Homo sapiens: one gene and its partners. The protein of the gene in region 3 interacts with the protein of the main gene of each other region in a pairwise test. Each region holds a gene or a part of one and is shown on either strand. Other genes may lie near its edges.

The links.
Region 1: the proteins of MAPK1IP1L (region 3) and EWSR1 interact in binary tests that used the Homo sapiens proteins (3 or more experiments, as listed by UniProt).
Region 2: the proteins of MAPK1IP1L (region 3) and EIF3E interact in a two-hybrid assay, tested with the Homo sapiens proteins (one large-scale study listed by BioGRID).

The regions. Positions count from the first base shown.
Region 1 is NC_000022.11:29,274,655-29,278,310, forward strand, and holds part of EWSR1 (RNA-binding protein EWS), read left to right. Parts: intron 1-3,375; coding exon 3,376-3,562; intron 3,563-3,656. UniProt on the Homo sapiens protein: Binds to ssRNA containing the consensus sequence 5'-AGGUAA-3'. Might normally function as a transcriptional repressor. EWS-fusion-proteins (EFPS) may play a role in the tumorigenic process.
Region 2 is NC_000008.11:108,214,074-108,217,729, reverse strand, and holds part of EIF3E (eukaryotic translation initiation factor 3 subunit E), read left to right. Parts: intron 1-269; coding exon 270-396; intron 397-1,216; coding exon 1,217-1,318; intron 1,319-3,013; coding exon 3,014-3,123; intron 3,124-3,656. UniProt on the Homo sapiens protein: Component of the eukaryotic translation initiation factor 3 (eIF-3) complex, which is required for several steps in the initiation of protein synthesis.
Region 3 is NC_000014.9:55,054,498-55,058,153, forward strand, and holds part of MAPK1IP1L (MAPK-interacting and spindle-stabilizing protein-like), read left to right. Parts: intron 1-3,656.

The DNA of each region.
Region 1 (3,656 bases), on a different chromosome or scaffold from region 3:
TGGTTGGTTTCTAGTCCAGACACATTTTATTTTCTGTTTTAAGTGTTATGAATTATTTTAATCCATGGTATGTCTTGAATATATATAACATTATTCCAAGATACTAAAAAATAAACTATTCTAAGAATTAGAAGAAATTGTATTCCGATACTGAGGTTGGGTGGGATACATGAAAAACCTATGATAATTTTTTTGTGTTCAGTGCTGTGTAATGTTTCAGGCTGTCTCCCCCTGCCCTTTTATTATTGCTGTTATAAAAGACTCTAATAAAGTCTTAAAGATATCAGAGCTCTTATTTTCAAACTGTCTTTAGTTCTCCAAATTATATATAGTCCAGTTAAGGGGAAAAACCTGTCTGTAATTTATCTCATTGAGTACCAGTGTCCTGATTTTGATGGGAAGTAATTCCTAACCTCTTCTAGGGTGTTTCTCAAATAGGATGGGAAATGTTTATCTAAACTTTCTAGTGGTGTTAATTGCAGCTGTGGGAAGAGCTGGAACTAAGGTTATGCAGTTTGGATTTTTTAGCATAGAATTTTGAAATTGTGAGATAAACTTCATGTATTAAAGCCATTACATTTTTTAAAACAAGCATGATGTGAAAGTTAATGTGGCCTAGATCTAGCCTTCCGAATCCTTAGATCATTTTACAGGAATGAGACGGAGTGATTTATAGGCAAATTAATGGTTCTCTAGAGCCATGTATCACATTGTCGTTGGTTGAGAAATCCCCATCATGACTGTGGGCCTAAAAAGTACAGGTCATTCTAGTTTAGAGACTAGTAGCTTTGATGAGCTGGAGATTGCACTTAGTAATAATAATGTTTGTATAAAATTCACAGTTTATAGAGTGGCCTTCTTGTCTCCCTTAATCCTCCCAAGAACTTTTGGGGTATAAAAACACCAAAATTAAGCCTGATGAGCAAACTGTGTGAACAAAACTTAGCAGGAGCCTAATTGGTAGTGCGTGGGTTCAAGCACACATGCTGCATTTTTCCTTACCTCATACTGCCTTTACACATGAAAGTTATCGGATAGTCATTGGAGGGAATACATAGAAATACACTGTTCTCTTCTAGGATTTTTAAAAATTAAACTTCAGAAGAAAGGGGTTATATAAACCTCAATTCAATGGAATTCTTAAAAACTTCTTAATTTTTACGTTGAACAAAAGTTTTGGTTTGTGTAATATTTCTTACCACCTTTTTCCTTCAAGTTGTCAGCACATAGTAGGTGTGTTTTCTTTTTTTGCCACTGGTCTTTTGTTTTTTTGTTTTTTTGTTTTTTTTTTGGTCATTAAATCATTTTGCTCTGTTGATTTTTGTTCATTTTGCTTGGCTGCTTTTGTGGGTACTACAGATTAATTAAAAGGTTATTTATTAACCCAGTGTCTATTGCTGTAATCTTTAGCATGACAAGGCCCTAACTGTTGCTGCATAGTTTTATGACATGAGTTATTGCCCTGATCACTTTTAGTTTTTTGTTTTTTTAATTGCCCTCCTTGTAAATCTTATAGACGTGTCATGTAGTGGGGTGTAATCGGTATATGAACGGTAGGGTAGATGGTATTAGATTCTAATTTAAATAAATGAATGCCTTATGTGGTTGACCTTAGGACTCTGCAAAAACTTAAGCAGTTCAGATGAACAACATGCCAACTCAAAAACTTTTATTGCTTGGGGCTTCCTGTTTTCTGGAACTATGTATACTTTCATACACATTTTAACTCAGCAGTTTTGACAAGGACATTACTATCTCTGTGTATAATTTCAGAATTTCCTTTTAATATTTGAGGTAGAGAAGAAAGAGTATTATTATATTCTGTGCTACAAATGGTGATTGTACAAAAGGAAGCTGATACTTGTTTCTGGCCAGTACATGAGGACACTTTAAGGCCCTAAATCTTAACTAAAATGGGCAGTCTTGATTCAGGATTTATTTTAAATATGGAAGCTTTTTCTTTAGTGAGATGTAGACTTTTTTTTTGGATATAAATGCCAGCACCTAGACCAAAGTTTTGTTTTGTTTTGTTTTTTTAAGATAGGGTCTCTGTTGCCTAGGCTGGATCTTACTGCAGCCTTGACCTCCCAGCCTCAAGCAGTCCACCCACCTCAGCCTCCCAAGTAGCTGGGACTGAAGGCTCACGCCACCATGCCCAGCTAAGTTTGTTTATTTTTTGTAGAGGCGAGGTCTCACTATATTGCCCAGGGTGGTCTCTAACTCCTAAACTCAAGCAGTCCTCCCACCTCAGCCTCCCAAAGTGTAAACCAAACTTTTTATTGCATGGCTTAATTGTACCCATTGACCATGAGGAAGAAGAGTCCAGCACCAGGAATGGTTGTAACACCTCCTACAGGAAAGGTACTCTAGTTAGGAGCTGCAGACTTTCGTGGTTTTGGTCATGCTCCACGCCGAAGTCCCGAAGGGAAAGGCATGGATCCTGCCTGGTCTGGCAGAGGCAGGAGCTAGGGATAGAATGCATCTTGCTTTGCAGCATACCTGTGAAACCAGGTTTTTTCTGACACCTGGTTAGTGAAATACTGAAGGGGAGGAGAGACTCTAGGGTTTACCTCCAATATTGCTGAGCAGGAAAAAGGCCTTTTGCTTGTGGTAGGTAAGTAAGAGGAATGGAGCTGAGTAACTTGATAACGAGGCAGGAATCTGCTTTATGATGTGAAAACATTACCTTTTAAATGTTTGTTTGGAGCAATATCGAAGTTTAATTTTAAATAATTTACAAAAAAAGGATAAACTGTGTTAAGCAACTATAATTTATAGCTTATTTTTATTAATCATGTGCTCAAGTAATTAAGCTTGTGCTTCACATGATGTTAGTGCTTGGGACCAAAAGAAAGTGATTAAATTAATTACTACCCAAATTACAGGTTTTAGTGCTAGAACTAGTACCTGGATCATTTTCTAATTATTTTAAAATGCTATGTCATTTGCCTTTTACCTTTTCTTCTGGGATGTTTTATTCCTGCTTGAGGGTATTTTGGGGTAAGTTTGTTTACAAACTTGTTAAGACGACCTGCTAGCAAAATCAGTACAGACTTGGCAAAAACAGACTTGTCTCCTATTCACAGCATTCAAGAGGGGGCAGAAGGAACCCTGTTTTCTGTAGCATGACATGCCATTTCTGTTAGGTGTGGTTTTAGAGCAAATGAGACAGTTACTTTACCAAAAACTAGGTACATTCAGAGAACTTAGGCTTTAAATACCAGTTTGTTGCTACTCTTGCGGAAGGGGGAATATTTAAAGGGATTCAATATCCTGATGGTTTAAAGTAAGTGGTTTACAAATTGTTCTGATAATGAGTGTCTAGGCAGATCTCTGAGGGGACCTGAAATCTGATGCAGCTCTCCTTTGTTCTAGGTTATACTACTCCAACTGCCCCCCAGGCATACAGCCAGCCTGTCCAGGGGTATGGCACTGGTGCTTATGATACCACCACTGCTACAGTCACCACCACCCAGGCCTCCTATGCAGCTCAGTCTGCATATGGCACTCAGCCTGCTTATCCAGCCTATGGGCAGCAGCCAGCAGCCACTGCACCTACAAGGTAAGGCCATGGTGTCCTTAATGCGTCAGTCTTATGTTGGAGGGAAAGAAAGCAACTGTGTACACTTAAAATAATCTGTGGTTTAGTTCCTTAT
Region 2 (3,656 bases), on a different chromosome or scaffold from region 3:
CTCAAAAATAATAATAGGATAATTAGCCTCTTGATTGAGTCTTCCATCTCACCCCATATTAAAGAAATAGTGGCTAGCATTCTCCTCATTTGGATTCCTGAAACTGGATTCTGTTTTTAAATTTCCTTGGAGGAGATTTTCTTATAATACTCATTCTTAAGTGTTTGCAGTCTTAGGCTAGTGAAATAGTACAATCTAATGACCTGCTCGAGAGTTTTCTTTATCTCACCCTGGGTAAGTTATTAAATAACTTTTATATTTTTTCTTAGATATCTTAATGCAATTCAGACAATGTGTCCACACATTCTTCGCTATTTGACTACAGCAGTCATAACAAACAAGGATGTTCGAAAACGTCGGCAGGTTCTAAAAGATCTAGTTAAAGTTATTCAACAGGTAAAACTAAAATATATATTGATTTTTTTTTTTAAATACCTAAGCTTTAGGTCTAACCTCTTTTTCTAAGGTAAGACTTAGTTCTTAAGGTACAAACGTTTTTAAAAATAGGTGGAAGGAATACTTGAAGTTTAGAAAAGAGAAGACCCTCAAATGGGCTTTTGTTTTCCTTAAGTCCAAGATACACAAGTTGGATGTGGTAGGAATGATTATTACTGTCTGCTAGATGAACACTTAATATATACATTATGTGTATGTGTTTCTCTTATTGCAAAGAGTGAAGAAAATCTGGAACCTGGAGGTGGGGGTCATTACCTGTGTAATTCTACATGGGTGAACTTTATATACAATACCGTTTCAATAGACCCCAAGTTGGGCAAAAGGTTTCAGGCAGCCATGCTGATTGATATTTAGTGAGCTTGTCAGCAAAACCCGTAGATTAGAAATATAACTTAAATATTTATTTAAGAGTGTATTAAATACAAAGAAGTTATTGTCATTCAGTAGGGAATGAATACCCTTATGATTGGGGAAGTTTATTACTGTTTATTGACCAAGGGAGACTTTTGGTAGTAGAGGAATTTGAAAGCTTTCAGAATGCTTCTAGGATGAGACTTTAGAGAACTTGGTTTGAAAGACATAATAAGCTTAAGGTGTGGTCTGGAATCAGGATAGGAACAATTGTTTTGGGAAGATGCTAGGTAATTTGGCTAGAAATTAATGGTAAAGAAGGAGAAAACAAGAAGATTGGGATATTCTGGGGCAATCTGCTAAACAATGTTGAATCAGACTTACCTTGACCGTTGACTTATTTTTACAGGAGTCTTACACATATAAAGACCCAATTACAGAATTTGTTGAATGTTTATATGTTAACTTTGACTTTGATGGGGCTCAGAAAAAGCTGAGGGAATGTGAATCAGTAAGTGTGAATTTTTATTTATAAACTAATACTATTCTTAAATTTTTGGATATTGTAACGTTAATCTTGCAGTGTCTTCCTTAAAGTAATGAAGTAATTATAACGGAAATATGCTTATTAATCTTAAAAAGGCCTAAATGGCTCATGTTTATTAACCTTAAAATGGCTTAAATGGCTTGTGTTTATTAATCTTAAAATGGGAATGTGCTAGAGTGATGACTTTTTTAATGTTGTTGCCATGTGTTTATCCCTTTTGTGAGGGAGTTTGTTAAAACATTGGGGGTAATTTAAATTTACAGACATATCCATAATTTCATGTCTTAAATCTCGAATGAATATTTTTAATATTTCATATGTACAGGCAAGGTCACTTTGAATTGCAAATAACAACTGTGTTTTTAATTTTGGTTCATAGATGGGCTTATCTTTAGAATATTTCCCATGGTTGTATTTAACATTTGTGATAAACCAGGCAATTCATTGTAATTACGAATTTTATAACGGCGGTGTCTCTTATTGTTTAGTAGAAATTAAAGTACCTTTAGAGCAAATGGAAGACTTATAGTTGTTTTGAATAATTAGTTTACAAGTTTTAAGAAACTAAACTAAGAATTCTAACTGCTAAATGTAGTTGCATTTACCAGATTCACAAGTTACTGGTTATCAGTTTCACCCTTGGAACCAAAATTTTGGCACAAAATGGGCAATTTGTTGACAAATATCTTACTTCTCTAAGGAAAAAAATGATCATGCAAATATCCATTCCCTGATGATTTTCTTATTTTATTTTTTTTCAGACAGAGTCTCACTCTGTTGCCGAGGCTGGAGTGCAGTGGCATGATCCCGGCTCACTGCAAACTCCACCTCCCGGGTTCACACCATTCTCCTGCCTCAGCCTCCCAAGTAGCTGGGACCATAGGCGCCCACCACCACGCCCGGTTAATTTTTTGTATTTTTAGTAGAGACAGGGTTTCACCATGTTAGCCAGGATGGTCTCGATCTCCTGATCTTGTGATCTGCCCACCTCGGCCTCCCAAAGTGCTGGGATTACAGGCGTCAGCCACCGCACCTGGCCTCCCTGATGATTTTCAAACATTAGATGGAATAGAAAATTAGAATCCAATATGGTAATTGGTGTTTTTTTTTGTAGTCATATATTGCATTATTAAGGTAAATATTGGCGTATATTCATTATGCTAAGTGTCTAGGTTTTGATGTTAAAAGACCTAGAGGGTACTTGGTTGCTGTTCTTGAAATTAAAATATTCTCTCTTAATTACACCATCTGTGGAATAGTAGCCACCTTTTGCATTCTTTTCCTTCTAATTTCTAAGTCTACTTAATATTGTAGAAATACTCCGAGCTTGTAGTCCATTTATAATTATTTTAAATAGTTGGAAGAGATAACATTATCTGCAGAGCATTTATGTAGAATAATGGATAGTACCAAACTTTGTTGTCAGAAGGCTACTTTATTAAAGTTATCAGAAACATTGCAGTTTTTAGGTCTTTATCTTGTGGTATTCGTTTACTACTTATTTAAATCATTAAAGATTTGAACACAGTGTTCTAGAAAGTGCTGTGGTATAAAACTCATGATTGTAGAATGGAAAAATAAAGCAGATAAAGTATTTGATTCACGTTTCAGGCAATTGCTTGTCAGCATCATTAATTTTTGTTGTATTTGTACATATAGGTGCTTGTGAATGACTTCTTCTTGGTGGCTTGTCTTGAGGATTTCATTGAAAATGCCCGTCTCTTCATATTTGAGACTTTCTGTCGCATCCACCAGTGTATCAGCATTAAGTAAGAACACCGTGATTTGATTTGGATTTTCTACTTTAAAATTCCTGGAAATTTCCATTTATTGTGAATTTACACTTAATAGAATTCCAGTTAATTGGATTTTTATTTATTTTTGCTTTCAGAAGAACAATGAAACAATTTGATAAAATTATTTAAAAACCTAACTTTTGCTACAGGCTCAGATAGTTTTAGCTTGAGTGGCATAATTTTTCAAAATACTAAGTTGAAGGCAATATATGATTATCAGTTACCTTATTGAAGAGTAAATACTCTTGTACCTTTACGTAAGGAGAAAAGTGTAGTAAACATTTCTAAAATGGTTTTCAACAACAGTACAAAGGAGATACCCATTAAATTGGAAATTCTGTTGAAAGACCACTACATTTGGTAATCCTTTCCATTTAGTTTGTATGATTTAATTACATATTTGACTTCTCCTATAGTAAACTCCTATGGCATCTTAAAATGTTGAAAGATGGAAAAATTATAGTGAATTTTAGTTGTAATTTCCTGTTTTGTCAGAAAATATTGGG
Region 3 (3,656 bases):
CCCAAAAATTTTGATTTCGCTTAATTTCGCCTAACAAATATCTAACATGTATATAGCACTTTATAGATTAAGTGTGTTACTATTTTCTGTGCAGTGGGCAGGAATTATAACTTCTACAGATGGAAAATGGTCTCTTATTGAGAAGTTTTTTGTCAAAAGATAACCGTCAAAAGGATTCATGTCCGGGTTTCATCACTGTGTAGTCCCATACTGTTTATCACTCCATCACAATTTGAAGGCTGTCTGAAATATCCATGAACTCCACTGGTAATTCATGGAGTTCAACTCTCTTAACCACCCTCCTCCCTGACCCATGATTTTTACCCTAACAGCCATGAGAGTTTCCAAAAATGTTATGTTTTACTTTTCTAGTGTATGTCAAAAGACATTTTGTACTGTTTTAAAATTACTATTCTTGCTATTCAAAGAATAAAAAGTATTGTTTTTCAGATGATGGGTGGATCATGCTATAAAATGGTAACAAAGTTTTGGAAATAATAGCTTTAGATTATTCCAAAAAGAAAAAAAAGAAAGCCTTTCTTGAGTATAAATTGTTTTTATGAGTTCAAGGTTACATTGGCCTCATCTTAATAATTAGCGATGATTCAGATATTTTGGAATAGCTTTATATTTTTATTTATTTTTCTTTTTGAGACAGAGTGCCACTAATATTGCCCAGGCTGGTCTCTTAACTACTGGCCTCAAGCGGTCTTCCCACCTCAGCCTCCTGAGAAGCTGGGATTACAGGTGCACACTACCAAGCGCGGCTTAGAATAGCTTTTTAGAAAACCTAAACTTTTTATGTTCTGCAACTCTCCTCATATTGAAACGTTCATGTCCAACTGTTTTTCACCTTTTCTAATGAAAGTATTCTCCAAAGAACAAATTGGAATGCTTCCAATTATAGTTGTTCCCCCTTATCCTAGGGGGACACATTGCAAGACTCCCCAATGAATCCCTGAAACTGAAGTCTGTATACACTGCCGAAGCCTAAGTATACCATGTTTTTTAGATCTAATAACCAAGATGGGCTGATAGCGTATACAGCATGGATACACTGGACAAAGGGATGATTCACGTCCTAGGCAGGAGGGGGCAAACTTTCATTTTGCTACTCAGAACATGCTCTTGCCCCATTTAAAACTTAGGAATTGGCCAGGTGCAGTGGTTCATGCCTAATCCCAGCACTTTGGGAGACTGAGGTGGGCGGATTACTTGAGGCCAGGAGTTTGAGACCAGCCTGGCCAACATGGTGAAACCCCGTCTCTACCAAAAATTAAAAATTAGCCGGGCGTGGTGGCACGTGCCTATAATCCCAGCTACTTGAGAGGCTCAGGTAGGAGAATCACTTAAACCTGGGAGGCGGAGGTTGCAGTGAGTCAAGATCACACTACTGCACTTTAGCCTGGGTGGCAGAGCGAGACTCCATCTCAAAAACAAAACAAAAAACTTACGAATTATTTATTTCTGGAATTTTTCATTTAATATGTTCGGACCTTAGGTAATTAAAACCACAGATAAGGGGGGATCACCCTAACATGAACGCTGTTTATTCTAGGAATGGAGAGCTGGTCACTTTACTAAGACAGTGCCGTAGAACAGAACTTGTTACTAATTCCTATGCTTAGGGCTTTGTTTTTTAATCACAAGATTCTAGCACCTCCCCTATCTTCCAGACTTGGATTTTGAACTTTAAAATTTTGAAGTAGTGTTGTGAATCAGTTGAATATTATTAACTTGTAGAATAATTTATGTAATTCCATGACTAGGTAACTGTATAATTCTGAAAACCTGAACAGTCAAGGCCATTTGGTTCACTTTGATTCTCAACTCCAGAATTAATATGAACTTTGATACAGAATCATTTTCTATTTCAGAAAGGCTAACCCTGTTTAAAAAGCATGTTAGCCTTACAACTTACCGTATATTTTCTACACTGTTAGTCCTAAAAATTTTATTGTGTGATGTGATTGACGTTAAACCTTAACATGGGAATGGGTTGTATGTGGGTTTTTTTGTTTTTTTGTTTTTGAGACGGAGTTTGCACTGTCACCCAGGCTGGAGTGCAGTGGCTTGATCTCAGCTCACTGCAAGCTCCGCCTCCTGGGTTCGCGCCATTCTCTTGCCTCAGCCTCCTGAGTAGCTGGGACTACAGGTGCCCACCATTATGCCTGGCTAATTTTTTGTATTTTTAGTAGAGACGGGGTTTCACCTTGTTAGCCAGGATGGTCTCAATCTCCTGACTTCGTGATCCGCCCTCCTCGGCCTCCCAAAGTGCTGGGATTACAGGCGTGAGCCACCGCGCCCGGCCATGTTTTTTGATATTCTGAATAAAAAGGATATAGCAGTTGGGATAGGCTTGGGTTCTTGTCCTTTATGTTCTTGTCCTTTCCTCATGATAATCAAATCATAATTAGAAATAAGATGCTAAGAATACAAAGGTGGCTCTATGTTAATACTGTATTGATAGGTCAAAGGAGAAAAAGCATGAGATCAATTCATTAGATACTGAAAAGTCTTTTGAGGGAATTTAATGTCTTCTTGCTTTCTTTATTAACAGAATAGGAATAAATAATAGCATAGGCATAAATTAAAAATAATGTAATTTTTTAAAATCTCAAACTAAAAATGGGAATCATACTTAAACATTAGCATTCCCAGGAGAGTTGGAGCAAGACCTCTGTGCCCACTATCACTCAACATTTCATTATTTAAGTCCTAGCAAGTGCAAAACAGAAAAGATGCATAAATATTAGAGAAGGAAAGTTATTTTTTGCAAATGGCGTATTTTTTATCTGGAAATACCAGAGAATCAAGTGAGAAACTTTGAAGAATAAAATAATTCAGTAATGATGCTTCCTACCCTAGGTTAATTAATATAAAGAAGAGTTAAATTCCTATGGCATATTTCTGGTAACAAAAACATCACTAAACTTTTAAATAAAACCCAAAACACTTCTAGTATTAAACATTTAAATGAGCTGGGCGCAGTGGCTCACGCCTGTAATCCCAGCACTTTGGGAGGCCAAGGTGGGCGGATCACAAGGTCAAGAGATGGAGACCATCCTGGACAACATGGTGAAACCCCGTCTCTACTAAAAATACAAAAATTAGTGGGTGTAGTGGCCCGCACCTGTAGTCCCAGCTACTCAGGAGACTGAGGCACGAGAATCGCTTAAACTGAGGAGGCGGAGGTTACAGTGAACCAAGATCGCGCCACTGCACTCCAGTCTGGCGACAGAGCGAGACTCCATCTCAAAAAAAAAAAAAAATTTAAATGATTTCTACTAAAAATTTTAAAAATTAGCATGCCTATGGTCCCAGCTACTCAAAGGCTAAGGTGGGAGGATCCACTTGAGCCTGGGAGGTGGAGGTTGCAGTGAGCTGTGATCACACCACTGCACTCCAGCCTCGGTGACAGAGCAAGACCCTGTCTCAAAAAAAAATTGAATGAATGTGAGCTGTGTATACATTTAAGAAAGATTAATAAAAAGATAATTATTTGCCTCCCTCTTCCAGTTCAGGGTCTCAATGGCTGGAGCCTTTCTTGGCAATTCAGAGTCCAAGTTGGGAACCAGCCCTGAACTGGACGCCATCCCAGCACAGGGTGCTCTCACCTACACCCACGCTCACAGACTGGGCCGCGTAGACACATC